7 linked regions of the Homo sapiens genome follow. The protein of the gene in region 3 purifies or fractionates together with the protein of the main gene of each other region. This does not show direct contact. Each region holds a gene or a part of one and is shown on either strand. Other genes may lie near its edges.

The links.
Region 1: the proteins of RNH1 (region 3) and LRPPRC fractionate together in Homo sapiens (co-fractionation; one large-scale study listed by BioGRID). This does not show direct contact.
Region 2: the proteins of RNH1 (region 3) and ZNF638 fractionate together in Homo sapiens (co-fractionation; one large-scale study listed by BioGRID). This does not show direct contact.
Region 4: the proteins of RNH1 (region 3) and ST13 fractionate together in Homo sapiens (co-fractionation; one large-scale study listed by BioGRID). This does not show direct contact.
Region 5: the proteins of RNH1 (region 3) and SLX4 purify together in Homo sapiens (co-immunoprecipitation; one large-scale study listed by IntAct). This does not show direct contact.
Region 6: the proteins of RNH1 (region 3) and GOLGA4 fractionate together in Homo sapiens (co-fractionation; one large-scale study listed by BioGRID). This does not show direct contact.
Region 7: the proteins of RNH1 (region 3) and TNIP3 purify together in Homo sapiens (co-immunoprecipitation; one large-scale study listed by IntAct). This does not show direct contact.

What each region holds. Positions count from the first base shown.
Region 1 is NC_000002.12:43,887,990-43,891,489, forward strand, and holds part of LRPPRC (leucine-rich PPR motif-containing protein, mitochondrial precursor), read right to left. Parts: intron 2,374-3,500; exon of another isoform or gene 2,234-2,373; intron 1,888-2,233; coding exon 1,745-1,887; intron 668-1,744; coding exon 611-667; 3' UTR 1-610. UniProt on the Homo sapiens protein: May play a role in RNA metabolism in both nuclei and mitochondria. In the nucleus binds to HNRPA1-associated poly(A) mRNAs and is part of nmRNP complexes at late stages of mRNA maturation which are possibly associated with nuclear mRNA export.
Region 2 is NC_000002.12:71,338,282-71,341,781, forward strand, and holds part of ZNF638 (zinc finger protein 638), read left to right. Parts: intron 1-3,500.
Region 3 is NC_000011.10:497,243-500,742, forward strand, and holds part of RNH1 (ribonuclease inhibitor), read right to left. Parts: intron 3,413-3,500; coding exon 3,242-3,412; intron 2,758-3,241; coding exon 2,587-2,757; intron 1,944-2,586; coding exon 1,773-1,943; intron 1,692-1,772; coding exon 1,521-1,691; intron 1,386-1,520; coding exon 1,215-1,385; intron 900-1,214; coding exon 729-899; intron 1-728. UniProt on the Homo sapiens protein: Ribonuclease inhibitor which inhibits RNASE1, RNASE2 and angiogenin (ANG). May play a role in redox homeostasis. Required to inhibit the cytotoxic tRNA ribonuclease activity of ANG in the cytoplasm in absence of stress.
Region 4 is NC_000022.11:40,850,140-40,853,639, forward strand, and holds part of ST13 (hsc70-interacting protein), read right to left. Parts: intron 742-3,500; coding exon 684-741; intron 1-683. UniProt on the Homo sapiens protein: One HIP oligomer binds the ATPase domains of at least two HSC70 molecules dependent on activation of the HSC70 ATPase by HSP40. Stabilizes the ADP state of HSC70 that has a high affinity for substrate protein.
Region 5 is NC_000016.10:3,584,144-3,587,606, reverse strand, and holds part of SLX4 (structure-specific endonuclease subunit SLX4), read left to right. Parts: exon of another isoform or gene 1-671; intron 672-2,735; coding exon 2,736-2,838; intron 2,839-3,463. UniProt on the Homo sapiens protein: Regulatory subunit that interacts with and increases the activity of different structure-specific endonucleases.
Region 6 is NC_000003.12:37,326,771-37,330,270, forward strand, and holds part of GOLGA4 (golgin subfamily A member 4), read left to right. Parts: coding exon 1-1,055; intron 1,056-1,645; coding exon 1,646-1,767; intron 1,768-2,192; coding exon 2,193-2,323; intron 2,324-3,500. UniProt on the Homo sapiens protein: Involved in vesicular trafficking at the Golgi apparatus level. May play a role in delivery of transport vesicles containing GPI-linked proteins from the trans-Golgi network through its interaction with MACF1. Involved in endosome-to-Golgi trafficking.
Region 7 is NC_000004.12:121,136,822-121,140,321, forward strand, and holds part of TNIP3 (TNFAIP3-interacting protein 3), read right to left. Parts: intron 1,864-3,500; coding exon 1,803-1,863; intron 1-1,802. UniProt on the Homo sapiens protein: Binds to zinc finger protein TNFAIP3 and inhibits NF-kappa-B activation induced by tumor necrosis factor, Toll-like receptor 4 (TLR4), interleukin-1 and 12-O-tetradecanoylphorbol-13-acetate.

The sequences.
Region 1 (3,500 bases), on a different chromosome or scaffold from region 3:
AGGGAAAGATGGGGAAGTGTGCCGAAGAGCCTCCAGGCATGACAGACAGTCCCCTGACCAAGCACAAGTAACAGGCCCTTTGGGTCTCTGCTTCTCACTGGAAAATGATGAAGCCTAGATCTGATGACTCCTAGTGCCAACATTTAACAAAGTTCGAAAGTTATGCAGGACTTCACACATGTACGGAATGGCTGTATCACAGAATATTATGCGTTAGAAAGTTCACGGTCACTATACCTAGCTCTAAAATTTTTCAGAGAAACAGCAGACTAATAAGTGAATCTTAAATAAAGGAATAACATTTTAATGAAATAAATGAAACAGAGCAGGGAAACCAAAGAGCCAATTAGGGGAAGAATCCTGAAAAAGTATGGCTTCACACAGCAGCAGCATTGAAGAAAACACTATCGATTTTTCCCAGAGAAAAAAACTCCAAAAATGTCCAATAACCAAGTGCACAGAGTTATGGTCAATAAGACTTTGAACATGCATCACACATACATAAGTACATAAAGAAAATTTTCATTTATTTTTCCCTCAGATATACTTCAAAATAACATGTAGACACAGAATCACAAATATATACAAAACAAAGTATCGCCTGGTTATTTCAAGAAGAGTTTTCCCTCAATTTTCTTAGCTGCTGTGCATAAAATTCAAAGCTTTCCTGTTAAGGAGAAAAAAAGAGGGAAGTTAGAGATACCAGCAAGAGGTGATGGTACATAACTTAAAAAATCATAAAACACTACCAACTGGTAGCTAAGACTGCCAGGCCCATGGAAGATGCTGCCCCTCAAGCTTCAGTACTCCTTCCTTGTTTCATGAAATCACAAGTTCAAGGGCCTCGGGTTCAGAGTTAAAGCTAGCAGCAGGAGGTAGGGTGCGTGTGTGTATACGTGTGTATGTGCAAGCATGTGTGTGTGCACATATGGAGGTATGGGTATGGAAGGCTGAGGTGTTTGAAATAAACACGGTGTATTGACTCAGTTCAATGACATAACAAAAAGGAATTGTGCATATGTGATTTCTCTTATTAAAGAAAACATGCCGGGCACAGTGGCTCACGCCTGTAATCCCGGCACTTTGGGAGGCCGAGGTGGGCGGATCACGAGGTCAGCAGTTCAAGACCAGCGTGGCCAACATGGTGAAACCCCATCTGTACTAAAAATACGAAAATGTGCCAGGCATGGTGGCAGGCCCCTGTAATCCCAGCTACTTGGGAGGCTGAGGCAGGAGAATCGCTTGGACCTGGGAGGCGGAGGTTGCAGTGAGCCGAGACCGTGCCATTGCACTCCAGCCTGGGCAACACAGCGAGACTCCATCTCAAAAAAAAAAAAAAAAAAAAAAAAAGGCAAAATTTCCTAGACGAAGAAATAAAAACCAACTTATGTAAATGAACAAGTAATTACCACTGACATAATATGCTTGGCTGTTGAACTACAGGCCATTAAATCCTATTTCAAGTTGAAATGAGAGAACTGCCCCAAGGACATTTGGTAAATCCATGCCTATAGCTGAAGGTCTGAGACAGACCTTGTATTTTAAACTGTGGCCCCAGAGAGCTATGTTCTCCGACTGCCGCAGCCAAGGCATGCTGCTCAGTCCCTCAAGCCATCCCCTGAGGGCTCTTCACAGAGATCTAATCCTCATGTAATTAAGTCTTCAACTTATTTTCTTACACATTGTTATGAAGTGCACATAAATCTGCAGAGGTATTTTTTCCCCTTAATTAAGAAATACTCACAGGGGGTTCAATGAAAGGGACAGGCTCTCCAGCATACTTCAGCAAAGATGCGTAACGCTTTAGAAACAGATCATCCAATTTTGTATTCTTTGCAGTCAAATGTTCATACAGTGCTTTAGCAGATGTGACATCTTTCTCTGAGACTGACATAAAGAAAAAAATATATTAATCAGAGATAAAGACAACCTATCTTACTCTTTTCACCAAAACAGCCACTCAGGGACGGCTGGATCCCTTTATCCCACGGCAAATGAACACTTAACTACTTTCAGTAAGAAGCCACATTCAGAATCTACCATCTCCCTCACTTCTCTACATCCCTCATTCGGCATCACTCACTTTGAAGGAGAAGAAAATGACAAATATGGCTACATTTAAAGGACTTTAGAATAATATTGATACCATTCACTTAGGTTATTACATTATTTAAGACCTATGATAGTTCAAGTGACCACAAACTGAAGTCCTCAGTTATAAAATAATACACACCATTCAATCCCCTTTGGCTTAAAACCACTGTGAAATCAAGATAATCCAGGAACTGTTGTGGAGAGGGACATGTCAATTATGTAGAAATCTACATCAACATCAAGATCATCAGCTCAACATCAAAAAAGCTTTTCATTTTTCTATTGTAAAATAAACAAATATGGAAAGTATAGTTAGCTACAATGATACACACACACAAAAAACCTATAGGCCGGGCGCAGTGGCTCACGCCTGTAATCCCAGCACTTTGGGAGGCCGAGGTAGGCGGATCACGAGGTTAGGAGATCGAGACCATCCTGGCTAACATGGTGAAACCCTGTCTCTACTAAAAATACAAAAAATTAGCCGGGCGTGGTGGCGGGTGTCTGTAGTCCCAGCTACTTGGGAGGCGGAGGCAGGACAATGGTGTGAACCCGGGAGGTGGAGCTTGCAGTGAGCCGAGATGGTGCCACTGCACTCCAGCCTGGGCAACAAGAGCGAGACACCATCTCAAAAAACAAACAAAAGCAAAACCTATAAGGAGACATTAACAAGTTACACTAGTTTCACTTAAGTGAATGATGAAATATGTTAGGAGCCAAATTTGGCTGGCTCTCTACTTGTGGCTGATTTGTGGAAATTTTTTAGTTTACCATGGAGATGGTAAGGGCTCTGCTAACAATTACTGCTGGTAATTCAACTCCTTAATTTTGCATTAGATTGTTAGCATCTAAGCATCACATAAACCCCTGCCCTACACTGACTCTGATATTGTCAACCGCAACTCCGGCAGCACCAGGGGAACCCCTAAGACAGAGGTGAGACGTTCAGCAATCAAAGAGTCTCCCAAAGTGGAATGAGGGTGACTCATCAGCTCTTAGTGGAGTTGGAACACATCTTTGCTGTTTCCATGAAGTCAACTTCTTGTGTAAATCCTTTATTTCCCTTCCTGAGGAGCTGAACCCTTTAAGGGCTCAAGCTCTATCTTCTAGGAAGCTGCTCCGAAAATTCTGGCATCTTGCCTTTCTTTACTTCTTGATTTTCTACCTTCCTCCCAAAATGGATTACCTAATTTAGTAGTAACACACACAGATTTATGCGCTTGACACTATTTCACATTACAGGCATACCTTGGCTTTAATGCACTTTACAGATGTTGCGTTATTTACAAATTGAAGGTTTATGGTAACCCTGCCTTGGGCAAGTCTATCAATGCCATTTTTCCAACAATATGTGCTTACTTTGTGTCTCTGTGTCACATTTTGGTAATTCCTGGAATATTTCAACC
Region 2 (3,500 bases), on a different chromosome or scaffold from region 3:
ACTGTTATTCTACATTTAGTAGTAGGTACTCAGCACTCTATAAGAGCTTCCCTTCTTCCGCATTGATTAATTTATTGCTATGTATTTATGGACTCTGTTTTTTCCAGTGTTTGATAATTTATTACTCTTCAGTTCTTTCTTGCTTTCTCCTATTTCCTATTTGTATTTCTTGTCTTTCACAATGAAAGCCCTAAGTTCCTAGCACCATCAAAACATTTACTTACTTGCTCAAACTTATGATGTATCTAAAGTAGTTTCAGAATTGCTTCATCCATACCACTACAAAAAATAAAATTACTAAAAAGAGTGAAAATTCGTTATTCTTCTCTTTCCCTTAGCTCCATCAAAACTGAGGTACATAAATCGTTTTTTATTTATTTATTTTCCTGGGGGGCTGTAACACTCGGGGTGTGGCCTCCTGTGAGGTACATAAATTGAATAGTGGTTTATAAGTTCTTGGATTAGTTTTCTTTTTCCCCTTCAATGTATTGTGGTATGCATTTGAAATATGATTGGATTAGTTTGCTTTCAGTGTTAGATATTTTTCTCCATCCCATCCTTACTGATTTTAAAAATATATGTAAATTGTTAACATGTTTCCAAAGGTTAAAACTGTATAGTAAGATGCTCCTTGAAATAACATTACCATATCCCTTCAATCCTTTCTATCCATTACCCCTTATAGATTACCAGCTTCATCGTTTTCTGTATTATTCTTCCTTTGTTTCTTTGTGCTAACCATAAAGAGGTATATGTATGTTTTCCTGTTTTCCTTTTTTGTTTAACACAAAAGATGGCATACTGTATGCTCATCTGCACTTGTAAAGACTTCAAGGCTTAAGGCTTTTAATGCATTTAGTCGGTTTAGGTTTTTTTTTTTTTTTTTTATTGAGACGGAGTCTCACTTGCACCCAGGCTGGAGTGCAGTGGCACCATCTCAGTGCACTGCAGCCTCCACCTCCCAGGTGCAAGTAGATTCTCCTGCCTCAGCCTCCTGAGTGGCTGGGATTACAGGCGCCTGCCAGCACACCCGGCTAATTTTTATATTTTTAGTAGAGACAGGGTTTCACCATGTTGGTCAGGCTGGTCTTGAATTCCTGACCTGGTGATCCGCCCTCCTCAGCCTCCCAAAGTGCTGGGATTACAGGCATGAGCCACCGCGCCCGGCCAGTTTAGGTATATTTAATTGAAGATTTTAGAACCCACTTTAGGTAAATGGAAACATTTTTTGGCCATGTTACTCCATGAAGAAAAGCAAATAACCAAATGGCAGAGAGGGCAAGGATGAGTTAGGCTTCAGAAACAATTGGGACTGGATATTGAATACCTTCATTATTGTCTTTACTTCTTGGTCTTGCTTACCTCTGTTCCAGTGGCTTTTGTTGTTGTTGTTGTTTTATGGTGCAGTTTCTCAGTAAAGCAGTAAATAGGGCTGTTAACAGCATTTGAATTTTAGAAACATCTACCACTTTTCTCATTTCTAGTTTAACAAAAAATCCTAGGGAAGATTTCTTTGTTCCAGCTTGGATAAGGTGTTTCCTCTTGGGCTAACCTGTTACACTTACTAGGAGTGTTTAGAGCAAGGCCACCAGTGCACATCTGCGGGGGAGCATCATTTACAATAAATACAATGTTGTGCTCTAGAGGCCTGTTTACGTATGCAGGTCACATGCTCCTAAGAAATAAAAAGGTATATCTTACAATAGCCCATTTATCAAAAAATCATTTTCCTGAAATTGGTAACAATATTAAATCATTGCTATATGGGATTAATGCCTGGTTCTCATGGAGATCTCTTAACATTGTGCATTAGCAGTTTTCCATTTTTTTTCAAATCTGAAATCATGGTGTTTATCAATCCTTGCAGTTAGTAGTGAAATTTGGTGTTGCCCTTCATGATGCCAAATAACGTTTCTAATTTTCTGCTTATTTTTGCTTTCTGTTTCATTGACTGTTTCTTTGAAGGCACCACATTTTGGCATTTTAACGTGAAACATGGTACTCTCTGTCAACACTTGTGGCACCCTCAGAATTGTTACTTGCATGCCTTTTGTGAGACAAGAGAGGACAAAGACTAATAGTAAAGAAGTTGGCTGAGTGGCTTTATCTGCGTGGTAGGAGAGATCAGCAGATTGAGTACCAGGAAAGCACAGAATGACATGTTAGTTTTTATAGCTGAATAAACAATCAGCCTCTTCTATTAACTACCCATTGTAATAACTGCATTCTTAAGTACCAAAGTGAATTTATATATTCTGAGACAAACAGTGCTCTAACAAAGCAGTATCAAATGAGGTATATGGGTGTATGTCTAGAAAAATAATGTTAGTGGTAGTTTTCCCTTTGTGGGAAGATTATAGAATACTTTTTTTTCTTTCCTGCATGTTATAGGGTGGTTTTTCTTTTTGGGGGGCGGATTTTGAAACTGTATTGCTTTTTTATGATTAGAAATAAAGTTATAAAGTAGATTTACACTTAATGTATCTGGTATATGGAAAGAACACCAATGGGAGATGTTGTAATCTTGTTACTTCCTAGCTGTGTTTTACTTAATGTGTGAACTGGAATTCCTTTCCTCTTAAGGTCATTGTGAAGCTCAGACGAGATAATATTTAAAGTGCTTTGTAAACTTTAAAGTAGTGTAAGTCCAAAAGTATGGTGTTTGATATAAATCTTTTCCTTATAAGTCTGATGGAGCCATTATCTGATGGATTGATTTTTGATGATGGTTTTGGATAAAGTCTGCCCATATCTGTAAAGAAAATTAAGGGCTCCCTTCCTTCTGAAAGACTGCATCAAAATAATAGGCAGTTCTTGGTTGTCTGTGGTATTGGAGATCTCAGAAATACCTCACAGGATCTAATAGCGCTATCTTTTCAATTCATCAAGCCGTTTCATCATGGCTTCCTCAAGAACCCAGTTTCTACTATGTTTCTGAAAGAATTTTTATGGTTGACATTATATTGAATATTTCTTGTTTTACAGTGGTATGTTTTAGTTCTTAAAAGGACATAAATGAGAGTTATTAGTTACTTGTTAAAACAGTTCAAAGGTTCAGCATGTTTTGTCACTATTAAGTATCCAGTTTTTGAAAAATAGTAAATTTAGAAAAATAAAATGTCAACTGAAAAGAGCAAATAGTATACTTCTAATTTTGTACAGTGTTTAATATACCCCACCCCCCCATCATGCGTGCATGAACGTACACTAAAGTAGATGAAACTATACCAGAGTATTAATTTACTCTGGGTGATGGTTTTATTGGTAAGGATTTTGTTTGCAGCTTTATTGTTTCTGTAACAAGCACACATTACTTACATAACTAGGAATAAAACATTTATTTTAAAGGGTTAATGCTACTTAATTGCAGTTTTTTCCCCAACAAGTTAATAGTTAAGAACCCTGATCTCAACTCTTCGTTTTTCCAGGTTATTTATTTCATAAGATGACTATCCATAAATCTTCCGATGAACGAACCTCTTTATGACCAGAGCTCCTGG
Region 3 (3,500 bases):
ACACTCATGCTCACTCTCGCCCATGTGCTCACACACGGACACTCGTGCTCATTCTTGCCCATGTGCTCACACACGGACCCTCGTGCTCACTCTCACGTGCTCACACACGGACACTCATGCTCACTCACCCATGTGCTCACACTCGGACACTCGTGCTCTCACCCATGTGCTCACACACGGACACTCATGCTCTCTCGCCCATGTGCTCACACACACTCGTGCTCCCTCTCGCCCATGTGCTCACACTCACACGGACACTCGTGCTCATTCTTGCCCATGTGCTCACACACGGACCCTCGTGCTCACTCTCACGTGCTCACACACGGACACGTGCTCATTCTTGCCCATGTGCTCACACACTGACCCTCGTGCTCACTCTCACGTGCTCACACACGGACACTCGTGCTCTCACCCATGTGCTCACACACACGTGCTCACCCATGTGCTCACACACGGACACTCGTGCTCATTCTTGCCCATGTGCTCACACACGGACCCTCGTGCTCACTCACGTGCTCACACGGACACGTGCTCACTCTCACATGCTCACGGACACCCATGCTCACACTCATATGCTCACACACGTGCTCACACTCGCCTCACCCATGTGTGCTCACATACACACGGACACTCGTGCTCACACAGATACTCGTGCACTCTCGCCCTTGTGTGCACACACGGGCATATGATCTCCCAAATGTGCATACTCGTGTCCCTCACACACTCACCAGAGCACCCGCAGCACAGAGCCAGGCTGGCCCAGGCCCTGGCACAGCTCCCGCACGCCCGCATCCTCCAGCCTGTTGTTGCTTATCTGTAGCTCCAGGAGAAACCTGTTCTGGGCCAGCACTGAGCTGAAGTGGGAGCAGCAGGCGGCTGTGAAGCTGCAGGACTTCACCCTGTGGACACAGACAGGACTGACGCCTGGCAGGGGCCCAGGCTGGCCCACAGCTGCGACTGGCCCTTCCCCTGAAGGCCCCACGTGGACCTGAGCAAAAACATCTGACAGCCTCCCAGCAAGTGGGCACCTACACCTGGTCCTTGGCCCCAAGCACTGTTCCCATCAAACCACAGGCTGCTCCCTGGCCTATGCATTCTGAAGGTCGGAGCTGAGCCCAGCAGCTTCCCTGGAGTCGCTCACTCCTCCCCTGGTCTCCTCGGTCACCCTGGCCCTCTCTTGGGCGACAGGGCCCTGCCCCGACAGCCACACTCACCACAGCGACTCCAGCTGGCAGCCAGGTTCCAGCAGGGTCTCACACAGCAGTCGGGCACCCTCATCCCCCAGCTCGTTGCCGGCCAGGCTGAGCTCCTTCAGGCTCTCCTTGGCCCTGAGGACACGGCACAGATCCCCGCAGCCCTTGGCAGTGATGCCACACTCCCAGATCCTGCAGGACATGGACCACCACAGACTTTCCTCAGCACCGTCTCATGGCCTGAGATGAGCCCAGGGGCGGGGGAGAGCTCTGAGGACGGCCCGCCGCCCGACCCTCCGGGAAGGAGGCCTCGCGGAGATGACTCACCACAGGGTCCTGAGCCTGGAGCTGGGGTGGAGCAGCCCTGGGCACAGCTCCGCCATGCCCACATCACCCAGCTTGTTGCTGCCCAGGGCCAGCTCCCGCAGCGAGGCCTTGGAGGCCACAATGCCGCACAGGTCCCGGCAGTTGTCTGATGTCACACCGCAGCTCTCCAGCCTGGGGACACGGGTCACACGTGAGGCAGCACGGGACCCCCCCTAGCCCACACCCCGCACCCCCCCAAGGCCCAGTGCCTACTTGAGCGCCTCCAGCTGGCAGGGGGAGTCCTTCAGGCCCTGGCACAGCACACGGACGCCAGCCTCATTGATGTCGTTGTTGCTAACCGTGAGCTCCTTGAAGTCCGGCTTGGCCCTGAGCACGGAGGCCAGGGGCTCGCAGCTGGCAGCCGAGAGGCTGCAATACTCCAGCCTGGGGGACAGCAGAGCTCAGCACCACACAGGAATGTGCACCAGCCAAGGGTGTGATACCAGGGAGCACGGGGTGTGCTGGTGTCTCATCTCCCCTCAGTCTTCTGCCTGGGCATCAGGTGTCAGTGCTGAGGGACCCCCACAGACTCATCCAGAGGCCCGGGCCTCTGTGGACACCGGCATTCCTTCTGGAAACCCCTCACCCCCTCCCGGACCTCAGACTTTGGGGCCCAACCAGGCCCGGGAGAAAGAAACCAGCCTCTGGAGGGCAGGGCCACCTGCACGTCCCAGGCTGTGGTCAACTCACAATGGCCGGGTCCCCCACACACACTGAGGCGGTGAGTGGAACCTGACTCACGGCCAGGCATCTGTTCCCACCGTCGGGTCCTGGGGCAGCTGTGCCTTGCAAAGGACAACTGGATGGGGAGGGAGGGTGATGACAGATCCCCCCAGCCCCAGCATCATGGGGAGAGGAGAGCACCACAAGGCCCCAGACCCAGCATCATGGGGAAAGGAGAGCACCACAAGGCCCCTGTGACCTGAGTCCCCTCCTCACGGCTCCTGGCAGGCGATGTTCTATGTAGGGGGCTGGCTGGGGGACAGGCAGCGGCCAGCATGGGCCCTGGGGCAGGACACAAACTCACTGCAGCTTTTCCAGGCGGCACTGGGGGTCCAGGAGTCCTTCGCAGAGCAGCTGCAGGCCCGCATCCCCCAAGAGGTTGTCGCTGAGGTGCAGCTCCTGCAGGGTGGGCAGGGTGCGTAGTGTGCTGGACAGGACCCCGCAGCCGGCCCCCGTCAGGCAGCAGTTCTGGAGGCTGGAGCATACCTGGCTGTCAGCAGGGCTCCCCTGAGCCAAGCTGCCACGCCCTTCGCCTGCCAGAGCCCAGAGCCCGGAGCAGCACTCTTCAGGCGGCAGGTCTATACCTGCTCCTTCCCTGGACGGGGCTCTGGGGTCTGGGGTCTCCAGGCCGAGTGAAGGAGGGCACGCATGTGGCTCGACCCAGGGAAACCTTGTCTGCAGACACACCTTTCAGTGGGGGTCTGTGGTGATGCTGGAAGGCTAGGGATGGCGGGCAGGGCCAGATCTTGGGTGCGGGGGCTGGGATAAGGCAGGAAGGGCCCTGTCCCCCCCGCTGTGAGACCGCCAGGCCTGTGTGCCTCTGGCTGATGTTGGAAATGTCTGCTGCCACTGCCTGTCCACCTGCAGCTGCCCACGCGCCCCTGGCGGCTCTGTCCCCTGCTGCCGGGCTACCAAAGCAGACTGCACCAGGCCAGAGGCAGTGCCAGGCCCCGCCTCACCTCAGCTTCTGGATCTTGCAGGAGGGGGTCTGCAGGCCCTGGAGCACGCAATGCACGCCGACATCGCCCAGCTCGTTGCTGCGCAGGTTGAGCTCTGCCAGTGCAGGGTTGACTCGAAGTGCAGAGCTGATGTCCTTGCACCGTGCTTCCGTGAGGCCACAGTCGTCCAGCCTGTGAGCAGACCCCAGGGTCATGTGGACCACGCAGACAGCACTGGCCTCAGCCTCCACCACCACCCCACGTGCAGGTTACAACCTAT
Region 4 (3,500 bases), on a different chromosome or scaffold from region 3:
CCCAGATACTCGGGAGACTGAAACAGGAGAATCGCTTGAAGCCAGTAGGCTGAGGTTGCAGTGAGCCGAGATTGTACCAGTGCACTCAGACCTGGGTGACACAGTGAGACTTTGTCTCAGGAAAGAAAAAACAAACAAATAAAAGAAAACATTCTTAAACATGTATGTTCCCCTTCATCTGTCTCTCAACTTCAGCTACTGGTAACCTTCTCCTAATCTTACACGTCCTTTAAGCAAATATGCTAACCCAACACCATGATTCACACTCACAAATATCACTCAGGTAGTAGAGCAAAAAAATTAAATTACTGACCTGGGATACTTCATTTACTCTGCAAATAATAAATAAAGTACCTACAATGCATATGACACACTGTAAGGCAATGATGAAGACTACGGATGCACACCATCACGGAGCTTACCACTTACAGGCCATACATGTAACTTTTATTGTCATGTATTCTAAAACAGTGAACATCCAACCCTAAATTCTCAGTTCTAAATCAGAATCCAGAGAATTCGGGTCTACAAAGTTATAAAGATAAAGAGGTCTTAAAAGGTCTTATTTCCAAGTGATCTTGGGGAAATCAGGAGTGATAACTGGAGAGCAGCAGTTTAAAAACAACCCCTAAGAAATCTTATAGTACTTTATCACAAAACATACAAATGAAATTAAAACTTACCTTGGTATTTTCTTCTGATTTAGCTTTCTGAGTAGCAGGTGGTACTTTACCACCCATGCTTGAAGAAGATGAGAAAAAAGATATTTGTTTAGAAAATTAAAATTCACTGTCACGCAACGTATTTACACCTAAAAAATAACGTTAGACATTTAGATGACTACCTTTTCAAAATTTAAAAGTAAACTCTCAATTAATCTGAATGCTGTGGTATTATTATGGTTAAATTTTTTCCAGCTTAAAATTTATTTTAAGGCTACTGGCTAATGAACCCCTTTCTTTGCCTCAATGAGTCAAATAAACATAATGTATAGCTTCTCTGTGCCTCTTCCCAGAGGAAAAGAGGCAGATATGTCAACATGCAATGACAAAATCATTTGCACAAGCTGTTAACTTAGAATTCAACTCAGTAGGTATATCTGAATCCTAAATTTGAAACTTGAAATAAGAGTTCAATTAAATTCAAATATGCAGTTTATGAAGTAACTATACCGTCATGATATAATTCAAAATGTTTGTGTCCTGTGACTGAGACCTATGAGAATTTTTCTTGCTTATATTTGCATGCCCATCACATTATAGATTTTCTCCTTATACACCCCTCCCAACCTCATCCATTAATACTTCCTCCTGACCCTACAAACTCTTCTTTCCCAAATAGTTCAGGGCAACACAATTCATTATAAGCAAATAACTAGAAGAGAAAAATTACAAAGAATTAGCGTTACATGCTCCATTTGGTGCAGACCCTATAGTATATGGGCTACCTGCAACAATCCAGTGACTAAAATGGTTGATAGACTTAAGAGCACTCCACAACAGTTGGAAGCAACGTAGACATTATTAAAATTTGCCTTAAAAACAAACAACAAAAGCCATTAACTATGTAAAACAAGGGGATATATTAACTTTGAAAACAGAAAGGGTTCTTTTTTTTTTTTTTTGAGATGGAGTCTTGCTCTGTCACCCAGGCTGGAGTGCAGTGGCACAATCTTGGCTCACTGCAACCTCCACCTCCTGGGTTCAAGCGATTCTCCTGCCTCAGCCTCCCAAGTAGCTGGGACTACAGGGTGCATGCCATCACACCCAGCTGATTTTTTGTTTTAGTAGAGACAGGGTTTCACCATGTTAGCCAGAACGGTCTCGATCTCCTGACCTCGTAATCCGCCAGCCTTGGCCTCCCAAAGTGCTGGATTTACAGGCATGAACCACTGCGCCCGGCCTGATTCTTTGTAACTAGAGTTGTCATATCCACACTTACATTCATTTCAGTTGGGTGGAATTTGTGGTCATAAGGGTATGTGCAGGCTGAATTTAAATGGGCATCAGTTTTCTGAAGTTCTTTTATCAATTTACACTTTTATCAGCAATGTATGAGAATTCCAATTGTTTCACGCCTTGGCCAATGCTTAGCTATTGTCCATCTTAAAGATTTTTTAGCCATTCTGATAGGTGCCTACTGGCATCTCATTGCAGTTGAGTCCCTTTTCATATATTTACTGGTCATTTAAAAAGACTTTTTTGTACAGTTCAACTCTCATCCAGCTTTCTAATAGATTGTCCTTCTTTATTTGAAGGTGTTGTCTGTATTCTGCATATGAACCCTTTGTCAGCTTTATGTGTTGCAAATATTTTCTCCCACCCTGTAGGTTGCCTTTTCACTCCCTTAGTATCATCTGAGAATCCCAATATGAAGCAAAAGTATAAATGCAAAGTAGCAGATGGAATGAAAAGAAACAGAATTTGGAATTTCTTATAAGCACCATTCAAACGAAGAAAATGTGCCTACTTTTTCCATTATGTTTAATATGATAGAAGAAAATGTTACACAGTACCCTTAATATGGAATAGCTCCCATGTCAAACATAAAGATTATATGATCCAAAACATCCTAATCTGCAATTCAGCAAAGTAAAATGATTTAATGATAAGGAACAGGCATATAGACACCACAAAATTCTTTTCTATGGAAACACTACTTTGCAAAAGAGCACAGTAATCACCAGTCCTTTGTAGTTAAATTTTAATGAAGACACAGGGTTTCTTACACTGTGTTCTTCCTAAGTTTCAAAATGCAGCGTCAGGAATGTATTTAGAGTGACATCCAGACATAGTATAACTTACAGTACACTAACTTTGGGAAGTGATATTCCTGCCAAGAAATGTATTAAGCTAAATCCAATCCTAAGGGAAGGCCAGACAAACCCAAATTGAAAGTCTATAAAATAACTTGCCAATAACATTCAAACTGTTAAGATCATGAAAGTCAAGGAAAGACTGAGGAACTGTTTCAGAATGGAGACTACGTGACATGGCAACTAAATGCAACACATAAATCTGAGGATTAGATAGCATAAATGCATCAGCATTAGTTTCCTAAGTTTAGTATTTGCATTGTAAAGACTTTGTAGGAAGTACACACTCACTGGTGTTGGGGTATAATGTTGGCAGCTTACTCTCAACTAGTTCAGAAAAAATTCCTTTGTACCATACCTGCAATTTTTCTGAGCTAGAAATTGTTGCAAAAAAAATAAAAACTTTAAAAAAAAAAGAGGATTTACTCATAAGCTAGATTTAGTTTCTCCCATCCCAAATTCTAGTTAACTAATGGAAGAAAACACCAACTCATAGGTACGAAATTTCAATTAATGCTTCCAAGGCTTAGAACAAGCTACTTTCTGGCCAAAAACTGCCACTTAGACTTTGGCACTACAGGCTTTTTTATGTTACACAATCAAGTAGGACCAGTGTAGAGACTTTTCTCACATAGGACCACATAAAACTTCATTCACATTTCTCTTAATTTGATAACCTTCTAAT
Region 5 (3,463 bases), on a different chromosome or scaffold from region 3:
AGGACGACGCTGCGGCCACAGGAAGAATCGTGCTTTTCTCAGGAGACAGAGCCTGCCGCTTTCATCGGGGGCTCAAAGGGCTCCATGGTCATAAAAGGCAGAAGAACCAAAGTCTGACTGTTTCCAATGTGTCACCAGGCTGGAGTGCAGTGGGGCTATCTCGGCTCACTGCAACCTCCACCTCTCGGGTTCAAGGGATTCTCCTGCCTCAGCCTCCCGAGTAGCTGGGATTACAGGCACCCAGCACCACGCCCAGCTAATTTTTGTATTTTTAGTAGAGTCGGGTTTCACCATGTTGATCAGGCTGGTCTTGAGCTGCTGACCTCAGGTGATCCGCCCACCTCGGCCTCCCAAAGTGCTGGGATTACAGGCGTGAGCCACCTCGCCCAGCCTATTATTTTTTAAAGTAACAGCTTTATTTAGATATAATTCACATACCATAATATCCACCCTTTTAAAATGGACAGTTCAGTGCTTCTCAGTACATTCACAGTGTTGTACAATTGTCCCCACTCTCTAATTCTAGAACATTTTCATCATCTCAAAAATCCTGTACCCATGAGCAGTCTCTCACCTTCCCCTTCCCCCAGCCCTGGCAACCAAGAACCTTTCTGTCTCTATGGATTTGCCTGTCCTGGACATTTCATATAAACAGAGCCATATATAACTAATATGTGGCCTTTTGTGTCTGTGTCTGGCTTCTTTCAGTTAGCATACAGTTTTCAAGATTCATACATGTTGTAGCATGGATCAGTATTTTATTCCTTTTTATTCTTTTTTTTTTTTTTTGAGACGGAGCCTCTCTCTGTTGCCCAGGCTAGAGTGCAGTGGCACGATCTCGGCTCACTGCAACCTCCACCTCCTGGGTCCAAGCGATTCTCCCGCCTCAGCCTCCCGAGTAGCTGGGATTACAAGCGCCCATCGCCATGCCATGCCCGGCTAATTTTTTTGTATTTTTAGTACAGATGGGGTTTCACCATGTTGGCCAAGCTGGTCTCGAACTCCTAACCTCAAGTGATCCACCCACTTTGGTCTCCCACAGTGCTGGGATTACAAGCCTGAGCCACTGTGCCTGGCCTGTTTTTGAGTCAGGGGTCTTGCTCTGTCACCCAGGCTGAAGTGCAGTGGCGCAATTACAGCTCATTGTAGCCTCGACCTCCCAGGCTCAAGTGATCCTCCCACCTCAACCTCCTGAGTAGCTGGGACTACAGGCAGCTGCCACCATGCCCAGCTAATTTTTTTTTTTTAGTAGAGACTGGGTCTTGCTATGTTGCCCTGGCTTTGGGCATACATTCCTTTGTATGTCTAATACCCCACTGATGGTATGCCACATTTTGCTTATCCATTCATCTACTAGTGGACACACGGGTTGTTTTTAATTTGTGGTTATTAATAATGCCACTTAGGAATATTGATGTGCAAGTTTTCGTGTAGACATGTTTTCCTTCTTCTTGGTTCTGTACTTAGGAGTGGAATTGCTGGGTCATATGGCAACTGTGTTTAGCATTGTGAGGAACTGCGAGACTGTTTTCCAAAGTGACTGCACCATTTTAAATCTCCACCAACACTTGTTATTCTGTTTTTGTTGTTGTTGTTATTGTTTTGAGACAAGGTCTTGCTCTGTCGCCCAGGCTGGAGTGCAGTGGCGTGTTCATGGCTTGCTGCAGCCTCAACCTTCCTGGCTCAGGTGATCCTCCCACCTCAGCCTCCCGAGTAGCTGGAACCAGCCACAAACAGCTGCCCACATTGGTGACTTGGGCCACCACACCCTGCTAACTTTTTTTGTATTTTTTTTTTTTTTTTTTTGTAGAGATAGGGTTCTGCCATTTTGCCCAAACCCTCTGTGTTTTTTGTTATGGCCATCCTAGTGGGCGTGCAGTGGTATCTCACTGTGGTTTTGACTTGCATTTCCCTGATGACTAATGATGTCGGGCACCTTTTCATGTGCTTATTGGCCATTTGTAGATCTTCTCTGGAGAAATGTCTGTTCACATCCTTTGCCCTTTTTTTTTTTTTTTTTTGAGACAGAGTCTTGCTCTGTCGCCCAGGCTGGAGTGCAGTGGTGTGATCTCGGCTCACTGCAAGCTCCGCCTCCCAGGTTCACGCCATTCTCCTGCCTCAGCCTCCCAAGCAGCTGGGACTACAGGCGCCCGCCACCACGCCCAGCTAATTTTTTGTATTTTTAATAGAGACGGGGTTTCACCGTGTTAGCCAGGATGGTCTCGATCTCCTGACCTCGTGATCCGCCCACCTCGGCCTCCCAAAGTGCTGGGATTACAGGCGTGAGCCACCGCGCCCGGCCCCTTTGCCCATTTTTTAACTGGGTTTTTTTAAATTGATGAATTATTTTTAAAAAGCAAAACTGATGTCTAAGCCTGTTTGAAGAGTATCAGTGTGGCCCATTGTCTCAAGTTGTCACTGTGGGTCAGATATTTTTAAGTTTACATGCATAAGTTTTAGTCACGTGCCGGGCTGTTGGGTTCAGTGGCCCCAGGAGCTCTGTTCACCCGGCACCCGTGTTATACAAGGTGTGGTCCTCAGTGCGTGTCACCGATGCTATCATTGGGAAGCCCCTGCTCCAGACAGGGAAGGGGTGACCACTGTTGCTTTCATGGAGCAAAACGATGCTTGGGTTATCTTCAAGTGCATTATTCCTCTTGGTCACGCTACTGGGATCAGATGTGGGAAATCCGTGTCCCTCATGCTAAAACGTGTGCTTCTTTTGTTTTACCCAGAAGGTGCTAATCGGAAGAAGAACTTGCCCCCCAAAGTGCCCATAACGCCGATGCCACAGTATTCCATTATGGAGACGCCGGTGCTGAAGAAGGAACTGGATAGGTTGGCGGTCTTCAAAGCTTGTTGCCCACAGTGGTCTTTTCCCTCCCATAAGTAACTGGGTTTCACACACCTGGGGGCGGAAGGGCCCCCCGTGTGGTCTCTGGGTCTGGTGGATGCAGCTGGCCTGGGCTTGGGAAGAAAGGTCTGCAGTCAGCTCCTTAGGGAGCATGTGTGACTGCTGGGTGCCGGGGTGAGCCTCCCAGTTCTCTCTGCGTACCATTCCCCAGGGAGGCAACACACAGGATTCGTGCATGTCACCCCTGGGCAGCAGGTCCCCATATTCCATGTAGATGGAAATGGCCCCCTAGCCAGAGCAGTCTGAGTGAGGAGGTCTGATTTTTTTTTTGAAAGACAGAGTCTTGCTCTGTCGCCCAGGCTGGAGTGCAGTGGCGCAGTCCCGGCTCACTGCAACCTCCACCTCCCGGGTTCAAGCGATTCTCCTGACTCAGCCTCCCGAGTAGCTGGGACTACAGGCACACGCCACCACACCAGGCTAATTGTTGTATTTTTAGTAGAGACGGGGTTTCACCATGTTGGCCAGGCTGGTCTCGAACTCCTGACCACGTGATCCACCCGCCTCGGCTTCCCAAAATGCTGGGATTACAGGCGTGAGCCACTGTGCCCG
Region 6 (3,500 bases), on a different chromosome or scaffold from region 3:
CTTGAGTCAGAAAGTGCTGCAAAATTAGCAGAGTTGAAGAGAAAAGCTGAACAAAAAATTGCTGCCATTAAGAAGCAGTTGTTATCTCAAATGGAAGAGAAAGAAGAACAGTATAAAAAAGGTACAGAAAGCCATTTGAGTGAGCTAAATACAAAATTGCAGGAAAGAGAAAGGGAAGTTCACATCTTGGAAGAAAAACTTAAGTCAGTGGAAAGTTCACAGTCAGAAACATTAATTGTACCCAGATCAGCAAAAAATGTGGCAGCATATACTGAACAAGAAGAAGCAGATTCCCAAGGCTGTGTGCAGAAGACATATGAAGAAAAAATCAGTGTTTTACAAAGAAACTTAACTGAAAAAGAAAAGCTATTGCAGAGGGTAGGGCAGGAAAAAGAAGAGACAGTTTCTTCTCATTTTGAAATGCGATGCCAATACCAGGAGCGCTTAATAAAGCTAGAACATGCTGAGGCAAAGCAACATGAAGATCAAAGTATGATAGGTCATCTTCAAGAGGAGCTTGAAGAAAAAAACAAGAAATATTCCTTGATAGTAGCCCAGCATGTGGAAAAAGAAGGAGGTAAAAATAACATACAGGCAAAGCAAAACTTGGAAAATGTGTTTGACGACGTCCAGAAAACCCTCCAGGAGAAGGAACTAACCTGTCAGATTTTGGAGCAAAAGATAAAAGAGCTGGATTCCTGCTTAGTAAGACAGAAAGAAGTACATAGAGTTGAAATGGAAGAGTTGACCTCAAAATATGAAAAATTACAGGCTTTACAACAGATGGATGGAAGAAATAAACCCACAGAACTTTTGGAAGAAAACACTGAAGAAAAGTCCAAATCACATTTGGTCCAACCCAAATTGCTTAGTAACATGGAAGCCCAGCACAATGATCTGGAGTTTAAATTAGCCGGGGCAGAACGGGAGAAACAGAAACTGGGCAAGGAGATTGTTAGATTGCAGAAAGACCTTCGAATGTTGAGAAAGGAGCATCAGCAAGAATTGGAAATACTAAAGAAAGAATATGATCAAGAAAGGGAAGAGAAAATCAAGTAAGTTTTATTTCAGCTTGAATATTTTTATGGCAGTCCTTCTTAATTAAGTCTCCTTTTTTTGTGCCTAATACAGTTATTTTAAATTATTTGGATAAGTTTCACCAACCCAAAATATTAAACATAAATCCAATATGTTAAATATGAGGAGAAATAAAAACAATTTAGGGCAAGTGGCAGTGTTATTCCATGTCCATTTAGGAGAGAAAAACCTTTTCTTGCATATAAGATTCTGGTTATTAGGGACATATCCAAGTAATTATTTTCTTTTTGTTTTGTTGTTTTTAGTATTAGCATTATTATTATATAACATAGATGTGTTTTGAAAAAAAAATTAAAGTGGAAAACAAAAATTCTCTGGTCCCCAGGACCACTACTTAGAGGTAATCATAGTTGATATGTACCTGGACACACACACACACACACACACACACACACACACACTCACTCTCACACTCTCTCTCTCTCTCTCTCTCAAAAATGTTTTCATACAATGAACTCATACTGTATGCACTGTTTTAAAGACCAGGTAGCTCCTTGCAGCTTGTTCTTTGTGTGGCAGCAGTTAACGGTACATTTTTATTACTCAGACAGGAGCAGGAAGATCTTGAACTGAAGCACAATTCCACATTAAAACAGCTGATGAGGGAGTTTAATACACAGCTGGCACAAAAGGAACAAGAGCTGGAAATGACCATAAAAGAAACTATCAGTAAGTAAAATTAAGTTCCATAAGGAACAATTATATCAGCAGAGGCTATAATTTAAGCTTATCATTTTTGCAGTGGTGGTAAGTGCATTAAGTCATTAAACTGGGGAAGAAATAATCCTTGCCCAATAACATTCTCTAATGGGAACCTGCCCTGCTTGGCAATGACTTACCTTAAGGAGAGAGGGAGCAGGTAAAACAATCTGAAAGTATTAGCTAATTAATTACCTTGTAAAGACACTTTTGCTCAGGGAGAGGATACATTTGATCACTGTTGAGCTAGATGTCTCATTAAACATCTTAAAATGCTTATATAAAATTAAATTTCATCAAAATTAATTGGAATGAGAGTTGTTACTGAAATTGAGATACAAATATTAACTCTTGACTAATGTGTTTTCTTGTGTGTGTTCATTTTTATTTATTAGATAAGGCCCAGGAGGTGGAGGCTGAACTTTTAGAAAGCCATCAAGAAGAGACAAATCAGTTACTTAAAAAAATTGCTGAGAAAGATGATGATCTAAAACGAACAGCCAAAAGATATGAAGAAATCCTTGATGTTTGTACCTTATTTCTTCTCTCTCACTTTTGAAATTTAGCTGTAATAGATTTCATGGTAGTGCCAAAGATTTCCTTTTCAAATGTGTTTTTTGAACGAAAAGGGTTTTTTTTTTTGACTCAATATTATTCAAATTAGTACTGTTATATGCAGATTTATAAAGTTGAGTTGATTTCTGCCAGGATTGTAGTTTCCTGATGAGATTCTGCTAACTAGGCAGCACAGTCCCCTTGCTAGTATTGAAGCAACAGTAGATACTAAAAGGAAGAATAGATTCTTTCCCATCTGCCTCACAGATTCTGACTGAACTGTGAGGGGAACCAGACTAAGAATCAAGACCCTGTGCTTCGGTGAAGTCTAAGTAATGGGATAGTGAGTGTGTATTTAAATGTGGCTGCTTAACTTAGCTGGAATCTTTCTGGGAGGGACAATCAACTTTACTCTTATCTCTACCCAGTGTGTGGAGGTTGATTGGTCTCAAGAGAAGAAAGCTGGGAAAAAATGGAATGCATAAGCCAAATCTTTTATATTTAGTGGAAGGTTATTTCAAAATACTTACTCTACTAATGCCATGTTGCAATTCACAGAATATGCCACTAATGCATTGCCATTAGCAAAATAAGATAAGCCATGAAGATACACCATGAAGATAAATCATAAATGCTAGTTAGTACTTTGGACTAACATTTGAAAATGTTTTCAAATGTAATACAATATAAATTGTTCTTGGTTGGGTTACAGATTCTGTAGTTGCTCTAAGCCTTATTTCACTATATGCTAAGAATCTTTTGGTGATTAAGAATTCATAAATCAAAGAATCATACCTCAGCTGACTATGTCAGCAGAAGTCTGAGTCGGGAACAGATTCTAATAATTATTTTAAATGTAATTGAAATGGCTAGAATTCCAAGATATAACACATGCCTATAAATGCCACCTTTTATAATTCTTGAGCTTTATATGTCATTATGAAAAGATTTAAATAATTTCACATTTTCTTATACTTCCATAGAGGATATATGTGCTAAATGAAAAAAAAAAAGTATTATTTCTTGAATGCCTAGAGAGTGTTGGAAGATACAGTAAAGCTAGTTTAGTTCTACTTTTTTTTTTTCTGTTTTTGTTTTTCAGAAGGAAAAGCCAGTTCAGTGTAGTTAAGTAATTTCCCTAAAACTAC
Region 7 (3,500 bases), on a different chromosome or scaffold from region 3:
TACTCCAGCCTGGGTGACAGAGTAAGACTGTCTCCGAAAAAAAAAAAAAAAAAAAAAGCTTAGGTTGGTACATCATGGAGATTTTTTTGTTGTAGTTTTACATCTGTAGACACTGTTACATGGTATGTTTATACATCACAAAGCTCACTACATTTTTCCTAGCTAGACAAAAATCAGTAAGTCTCATACACTGACTACAACATTTCATTATTGCATATTCTATTTAGTTTCTGAATGTCATCACAATTCATTTCTATTTTATGTAATCATTAGCTTGTGTAATATTGGTCCAGCAAGAATCTAATAATGATATATAAATGACCTTATGGTATTACTAAATTCTGTACTAAGTAATTTTATTTTCCAGTTATTAAACTCCAATTCAGAAAGAAAATATCTTTAATAGTCATTCCAGAGCAATATAAAATGGAAAATTATAATTGGGTAGCAATTCTGTTATTATACCATAATAGATTTTAAAATTGCATATATTATGCAACACACATTCCGGTTAATGGTATGCCTTTCTAATAAAACAACTCCATTATTGTTGGAACTCAAGAACTTCATTAAAACCACTGGCTATATTTGTAGTAGAAAGCAAAGAAAAAAGAGAGTCCTATAGTGTTTTGATAAATACCTGGATATTTTATTATGGAATTCTCACATTTCATATTTCTTTTCTATGATGCTGTTGTAATCTATGGCCTTTGTCACTCCCATTGCTGCTGTGTACAGCTGTCCAGATTGCGTATTGTACTTCAGCAGGCTCCATTCACATAGAGTACCATGATGAGCCCCTCAGACTTGTAAAGTTCACAACCTGCAAAACTACATGTGGTGTCCCTGACTCCCTATTTACACTCCATAACAGACTCCTTGTATTAAAAACTAGATTTCTGTGATCTCAGCTCTGACTTCAAACGAGATCAAATTTCAAGAATGGCCTGAAATTAGACTACATAGCTCATCTTCAGCATTTTTAGATAGATTCAAATCTTTGGAAATTAACAAGTTAGAGTCCCAGGTGTGTGTCATATGAGACTTTAAACATGTAGCAGACATTTCTAACTTTTGATTATGTATACTTGATGAGAATAGAAGTGGGATTTTGATTATAGCTCAGTTTATACAGCCCGCTTCTGGGTGGCCTCACAAGACCATAGAAACAAGCAGTAGAAAGTATAGCAGATTCTAGAAAGAAAACAGAAAATGTTAAATCAATAAAAAATAAGATTTAAAAAAGTACTCTTAGTTGTGAGTACTTCATAAGTGACTTTTAGTTTTCCCCAGCATACTTTGAGGTGGGCGTTGTGGGCAACCCTGGCCTAAACTAAGAGCCCTGCCTTGGAGTCTGACATTTAGTCATAAGGGAACACAGTTCCGAGCCTTTGGTTTCCTCTGTCTGTCTGCCAGTGACATTTAAAACATCTGTCTAGCAAACTCAACCTGGAATAGTGGGTGTGCATCTGTGCTTTGTAGTACAATTGCAGAGCTTTGTTGTTGTTATAATACAGCTCTGCTTACAGTTTTCATTTCTAACCCCAGATGGAATTCTGACTCTGAGACTGAAAAAGGAACAGAAGCCAGAATTGAGGTTCATGCATTTCTGCATTCGCACATTTTCTTTGTCTTAAGGAGTTCAATTTAACCCCAGGTGCATCAAATTAAAGTTATGTATGTAACACAACTTTATAGTAAGTCCTCCCCAAGTACGAATGAATGTATGTTGAGTAAACATCCCCAAAAGATCCCATTAAGATGTAAACATGAAAGAATGCTCAATACAGCTGTGGTCTCACCATTTGCCTTGTGTTGTACATCTGGCGGAAGCTGGTCAAGAGCATACCACTGATAGTCTGGCTGTGTGGAACAATACAACATTATTATAGCAATATGGACTTCAAATATAGTGGCATGTCAAAAATACAATTAGGCTATGTGGCTTTTATTAAGCAGGCAACACAAAAGTAATTTCTATCCAAACCTATTGCCAACCTCACTCATCCTGCTTACCCCCCATCACTGCCATCATCTCTCCCTACCCCCTCTTAAATCCACTCTGTGTTTGGCCAGAATTTCTACCACTTTGAGGTTGTGACATATTTTCTTTCTTTTTTTGAAACAGATGTGTTTTGAATATCTGCAGAAGTATAAACACTTGTAAAACTTACTACAGCCCATCAATAAAACAAAGCAACTTAGCATCAACAAATACTCTTTTTGAGACCCTCACACTAGAGGCAATGAGAAGGCCAGGAAAAAAAGTTTAATACAAGTTTTCTAATGGTTTAAGGAAGAAATTTAAGCTATTAAATGGGGATTTGGCATTGACAGAAGTTCAGGATGGTGAAGCAGGGCAAATCTTTCCCTTTTTGCTGTTGTGAAGAACCGATCCAGCAGAACCTATCCTCTAAATTGCTCATATAGTTTAGTCTACAGAGACAAGATTTTTCTCTTGGGATTTTCTCCTAGGTTTACACCAGTTAAGAACAGCTAGATATTGAATGTCGAACAAATTGCATTGAATAAATAGTAAACCCATAGGCCTGAATCATCAAGATATCTCCAAGGCCAGCACCTCTGTATTTAACGCTTAGGAATGGAGCAATCTCAGCTTTACCTGCCCACAAAGCAGGTCTGTCTTTCTGCTCTGAATGCTCACCCCTGCCTCCTACTTCTCCACAAGACACAGAGAATATAGATTTTTTTGTTGTTCTGTAATTCAATTATCTCCTAAAAATAACTTGAGGAAAATTTTTCTAACATGAGCCAACAGAGAGCATTTACAAGGCTGCCAGACCACTGAAAGTAGCCCAGAAAGTTCAATTACTCAATAAGACACTGAGAAATGCTGCTTTTAGTGCAGTTTGACCCCACTGTACCCCTACTCTAGACACCTAGGCCCTTGGCTCCTCTGGCTTATGAAAAAGCTAGAAGAGGAAATGAGATCACCTCTGTTTTTTATCTTCTCGTTTATTTTTAGATGTCTCAAATAACACATAGGATAAGTGACGTGAGCCTCAGTTTTATATTCCAGGAGAGTTGCCAAGAGAAGGTAAATATCCTGTAATGTTACCAACACTATAGCATGTGACTTAATTCAGCCTTCGATATAGACAAGAAACATGAAATATTATTTTTAAATTAACTTTGAGGATTTGGTTGTAAACTCTACTGTTATGCTGAGATTTTTTTCATCTGACTACTGCTTGAAAATGTAGGCCATTCTGGCCAGGCGCAGTGGCTCATGCCTGTAATCTCAGCACTTTGGGAGGCCAAGGTGGGCGGATCATGAGGTCAGGAGTTTGAGACCAGCCTGGGCAATATGGTGAAACCCCATCTCCGCTAAAATTACAAAAATTAGCCACGTGTGGTGGTGTGTGCCTGTAGTCCCAGCCAGTCGGGAGGCTGAGGCAGGAGAATTGCCTGAACCCAGGAGGTACAGGTTGCAGTGAGCCAAGATCGCACCACTGCACTACAGCCTGGATGACAGAGCG